2 separate regions of the Homo sapiens genome follow, and region 2 is linked to region 1. Evidence: fine-mapped expression QTL. A gene starts in region 1. The other region holds a variant in brackets. All regions are shown on one strand. Distances are from middle to middle. Region 1 holds the start of PTPN21 (protein tyrosine phosphatase non-receptor type 21). Region 2 overlaps TTC8 (tetratricopeptide repeat domain 8).

Evidence for each region. PIP is the estimated chance that this variant, and not a neighbour inherited with it, causes the effect.
Region 2: its variant is the best candidate, but not a certain one, in a credible set for the expression of PTPN21 in tibial artery (GTEx, PIP 0.55).

What each region holds. Positions count from the first base shown.
Region 1 is chr14:88,553,526-88,556,556 of GRCh38, forward strand. It overlaps PTPN21 (protein tyrosine phosphatase non-receptor type 21), which reads right to left and starts at 1,482. Exons shown (of 19, transcript NM_007039.4): 1 at 1,126-1,482. It overlaps LOC124903405 (proline-rich protein 2-like), which reads right to left. Exons shown (of 2, transcript XM_047432047.1): 2 at 1,132-1,535. The coding sequence ends at 1,171. RefSeq lists a silencer at 1,440-1,489.
Region 2 is chr14:88,848,854-88,851,353 of GRCh38, forward strand. The region is part of intron 7 of TTC8 (tetratricopeptide repeat domain 8); the gene reads left to right. Among named protein-coding and RNA genes, the nearest start is that of TTC8, 25 kb to the left of the region's middle. The variant A/G (reference allele first, on the strand shown) is at 1,465.

The DNA.
Region 1 (3,031 bases):
GCAATAATATGAAAGTGATTGGGTCTGGAATTATAATTTACTAAAGTAAACATAATTTATAAATAGCTATTAAAGGAAAACTAGGATATAATTTTTTCTCTACAAAATCTTTCCGTTTTGTGGTAAGTAAACAGATACATACTAGATTCTGCTTCAGTACAAGTTTACAAAAGGCAGTCTGAACTATTTGTGAATTCATTTTAATTTTCCCTCTCTACAACCCTTTCCAAAAGTTCCTCAAATACACTTTACCTCTCAATCTTACAGCGTTTCCCCTTTCCTATTAAGGTCCTTACCACATGTAATTTTGCCAAAGTTGCTTTAAAATAAAATAAGCACTAAAAGGAGAGAGTATGTGACATTTTTAGAGTAATATCTATAGCTATAGCATTAAACCCATGTTTCTCACGGAGAAAACATCTGTGCGTAGATGCTCCAGAATAAAATGCCCTAGAAACGAAACGGACTATATTCAGAGTAAAATTACTGTCGTGTCCCAAACTTAAAAAAATAAATAAACTGTCAGCAACTATTAGGCATACAGCAGTTGTCACTTGGAGCACACGAATGTTCTGAATGTGTTTGTGAGCATACGCTATTAGTATAAGGCTTTCTCAGCAAAAAAGAAAATAGGACGAGCATGCCAAGAGCGGCCAATCTAATCAGGATTTGCAGAAATCACAAGTCGGAATTTGCAGATCCAAGAATTCTTGTTTCCAGAGTAAATACTCTACTCCAAAAACAAACCCAGGCGTTACCAAACAGTCCTTCCCTGCGCCCCTTCTCGCCAAAGTTATCTGGCGAATTTCACGTTTATATATTCTGAGAGGCACAAATATGCCTAACACATTTAAAACCCTGATCCAGAATTAACCCGCAACAATCGGCCAGGGCGTTCGGAATAGAAGTTCAAGACTCCTTTTAGAAATTACTCAAGTATATGAGAGCGAACCTGAAAAACAAGACTTTTCTCTTTGTTACGCTCCCGCTACGGGTCTGGCCGCCGCGCCCCATTCTCCGGGATTCCGGGGCCGCGGGCGCGCTCCGGGGTCCGGGCGAGTGGACACACCCCACCGCTCGGGCCAGCCGCCCGCCCCTCCCGCCGGCCGGGGACCGCGCCCTCACCTGCTCCCGCTCCCGCTCCCGCATCCTCGGGGCCGCGCGCCCCGCTCAGCGACCCGCCTCCCGGGGCCCCGCCGCGCGGCCGCCGCAGCCGCACCCGCACGCCAGCCCGGGCCGCGGCGCGCTCATGGGGCTCGCACGCCTCACTTCCTGTCTCCAAAAACCCGGCTCGCAGACCATTCCCCTGGGCAGAGTCCGGCGGTGGCGACGGCGAGGGGCGAGGCCTGGAGGTGGGACCGGCCGGCGAGGAGCGCCGCACAAAGAAGCCCCGTGGGGGCGGGGGGTGGCAGGAGGACGGACAGACCGTCGGACCGACGCGGGACGCGCGGCCGGAGCAGCGGGGCGGCCGGGCCCAGGCGTCCCTCCCCCTGAGCCGGGCGGGCGGATCCGGGGAGGCGGCGGCGGCCCGTGACCTCAGAGAGTTGGAATGCGGGCAGCCGCGCGGGGGAGGCGCGGACAGCTGCGCCCGGCCGCCGGGGAGGGGGCGCGCCGCTGCTTTTTTTAATCGTATGACCACTTATTTTAAGAGTTTCCAAATAAAGCAAGGCTTTTAATAAAATGAGTGGAGGGGGTATTATTTAGGTTCCAGATAAAGGGTTTTATTCCTGTGTTATTAGGTAGGCTGTAAAATGCTGTTATTGATGGTTATTCGTTTACTCTGGTATATTTCTGAACACTATTGGAATACATTTCTTCTTTTCCTGCTTGCTCCTAAGGTTATGCCCCATATAACTAGACACTTCCAGTACTGGGTGGGAAAGCCCCCCCACCAAAAATGGTTCATATGCCTCAAATAACCTGTCAGTCCCCAAAAGGGAGCTGTCTGCTTATGCAATATAGAGCAGAACTGTTAAGGATGGAGACTTGACAAAGTTGTCAAATCCCAGCTCCAACATTTACTAGCTGGATGACCTTGTGCAAGTTTCTTAACTTCTCTTTACCTGTTTCCTCTCCTATAAAAGAGGGATATTAATATCTTTGCACAGCAGGGGTGGGGGAAATAAATACTAAGCAATATCCAATAACTTGTGTAAAGTATATATGAAGTGTTTCGTTTAAGGTTTATTATACAGTATTCTTGTACTGCATTATTACTGTATTGCAGCACTTAAGCTGAGGAATAAAACTGTGTGACCCTACCACTATTACAATAGTGTAAGATCTTTTCTTGGCATGTGGAACACAGAACCTTTTAATTTATGTAAATTTTAATTTCAGTGATTTTGTTTTAATGCTGTTGTTTCTGGAAAGCTTTTTAAAGTATTGTTTCATGTAAATCTCATTTTCTTAAACAATTAACAAAAACTTTTGAATACTTAACTCTGCATGAGACGTGGTCCCTGCACAACACGGACTTTTGGTTTAGTGGGTGATAAACGCACCTGCACACCACACACGCAGTACAAGGCCAAAGTGGGGAGCATTGTCATAGAGGTATGAGTGCTATCCAAGAGCAAAGCCCAGCAAGGTGCATCTTGGGTCGTTTAGCTAAAGGCAAATAAGATTACCTGTGTTTCTAAGGGAAAAAAAATAGATCAATTCTGTTTGTAATTGATATTTCAACTGAACTCTATGAGGGGGTCAATTTGTGTGTGAGCAAAGAAAAGAGATCTAAAAAGAAGTCACTTTGCTGGCTTCCCAAGGTAGAAAAACTGGAATCATGTGTGACTTCTCCCATTATCATCTCCAGCCTGTCATCAAGACCTGGTATTTCCTCCTTTGAAATGTCTCATGAATTCTTTGTTTCCTTTCTGTTCCCCCTGGAACATTCTAAATCCAAACCCTCATCATTTTACATCCGGATTATTGCAACAAGGGTGGTCTCCTGGCATCTGGTTTCTCAGTTCTCTCTTATTTCCTTGCTAATACCAGGCTTCCTTCTCTTATCACTCTTAATGGACTCCCAAGG
Region 2 (2,500 bases), 300 kb after region 1:
TACTAACGGAGATTAAGTCTAACTTTACCTTTGTTTTAAAATTTTTCAACAATAATGTTATAGTAAAATGAATTATAAATTAGGGGCAATAATATATTAAAATGCTGCCAATTTGTACTCTGCTTGTTATTTTCATCTGCTTACCCCCAATATACATACATTTTTTGTAGAACATAAAATGGAGCAATTTGTTTTGTTCTTATTTAGTGAGAAACACAAATTGTTCCTTTGTTTTCCATTTTATTTACTAATTCATATATTGATACATGCGTTGATTAGTTTATTCTTTAAATAATAATGATTGGGTTGTATATATTGGTACTTTGATGGGTGCTAGGGGTGCTGAGTTGGACAGATGTCTTGTTCTGTTTCTCACTCTGGTACAGTCTTGCCACATTATAGTGATGTTGTGGATCAGATTGTTCCATTAAAATGTCATTCTTGCTTTTACCAGAAATGTTCTTTTCTGAATGGAAGAAGGATTTAGATAATAAGTATAAAGCATGTATTTTTATATCTTACATATATTTTGTAACTTTAGCTGGAAAAAGAAAACAGGAATTCTGTTTTTTAACATGTTAAGAAATCAGAGGTGTTTTCATATTTAGATACCTTGGGTGGCCTCCAAATTTCTCTTTAAATAAAGTATTTAACACAAATACAGAGAATATTATAGACAAATATAAGAAATACCTTGAAATGGTGTTTAAATATTAAGAAAGTATAAAATTGATTGTCCATGGAAAACGATTTTTCTGTCTTTGAGCTTTTAGTGCTTTTCTCATGTTGTGGGGGTGGGCAGTATCAACGAAACTCAGGGGACACGTGGGCTGGTGATTCTGTGTTTATCTACAGACTAATAGGAAGAATACTGTAGAGACAGAGAACGCCATGCAGTGGTATTTAAATGTTAGGAAAAAGTAAAGTTATATATGGAAAACTATTTCTGCCTTTGAGTATTTAATAACTCCCTTTCCCCACCTTTCCCTTTTTGGACAATATTGTTGGTATCGACAAAACTAAAGTGGCATGTGGGTTGGTGATTCTGCAATCTTTGTTTCCACATGCTCTTTAATTTCATCATCCTGAAGTTGTTACAACTATAACAACAGTGAAAGGATGACTTTTTTTAAACTTAGATCTGCCAAAATTCCTCCTACTTTTGGACTTTTATAAACTTACTGCTTTAAAAAAATGGCATTCTGAGCTTTTATTAATATCTAGATATTGGTTTTACTAAATCATCCAAAAATCATTAAAGTCTTATTTATTTTAAAAATTTGGGAATGATTAAAGAAATATAGATCTGTCACTACTTAAAAATTTTAAGGTTAATAGCTTTTAATTATGAATCTTATTACTATGACAATTTTGTTTGGTTTTTAAGGTGTTGTCAACAGACGTCAGAAACAAAGATTATAATTAATTCAGTCAACAGATAGTTCTTGAGTACCTCTTCTGTGC[A/G]CAGCAATATTCCAGAACAACAGCACAGATGTAAAAGAGGATTATCTGTCCTCAGGGAGCTTGCCAGCCACTTAAAATTGTCCCAGATGGGCCAGGAATGGTGGCTCACACCTGTAATCCCAGCACTTTGGGAGGCTGAGGCAGGCGGATCAACTTGAGGTCAAGAGTTTGAGACTAGCCTGGCTAACATGGGGTGAAACCGTGTCTCCACTAAAAACATAAAACATTAGCTGGGCAGGGTGGCACATACCTGTAATCCCAGCTACTCAGGAGGCTGAGGCATGAAGATTGCTTGAGCCTGGGAGGTGGAGGAGTCGAGATTGTGCCACTGCACTCCATCCAGCCTGGGCAACAGAGCAAGACTGTATCAAAAAAGAAAGGAAAGAAATTGTCACAAATGTTTTTCTTTAGTGCCAGTGAGGACAGAAAAACCAAATTCTGTCAAAATATTTAAAGAGGTTTATTCTGAGTCAATATGCGTGACCTCGGTCTGGGGATACACAGTCTCAAAAGGTCCTGAGAAAGTGTGCCCAAGGCAACTGGGTTACAGTTTGGCTTTGTACATTTCAGGAAAGTATGGGAATTGCAGGTAAAATCATAAATCAGTACATGGAAGGTATACAGTGATTGGGCCTGAAAATTCTGTACATCTCGAAGCCATGGCTTACAAGTCATTGGTGGGTTTTAGGGATTCTTTAGTTGGCAATTGGTTGAAAGGTAATCTTTGTCTAAAGACTTGAAGTCAGTACATAAGGATGTTTAAGATCAGGGGGTGTCTGCCATCTCTCATGTGATGCTACACTAGAGTCAGATTGGAAAATAGGCTGCATTATACCAGCTTAGTTTAAAAAAACTGTTTAATGAGATTTTATGGTTTGTGGGGTCTGCTTAGAAAGGATTTGGGGCAAGAGAAAAAAAGGTCAGAGTTCAGTCCTTAGCAGCCTGAGTCTTCATCATTATAATTTCTTTTTGCCATTTTTATTCTGTATCAATAATTTATATTAATATCCTTAATTGGATTAGCACAAAGATATGG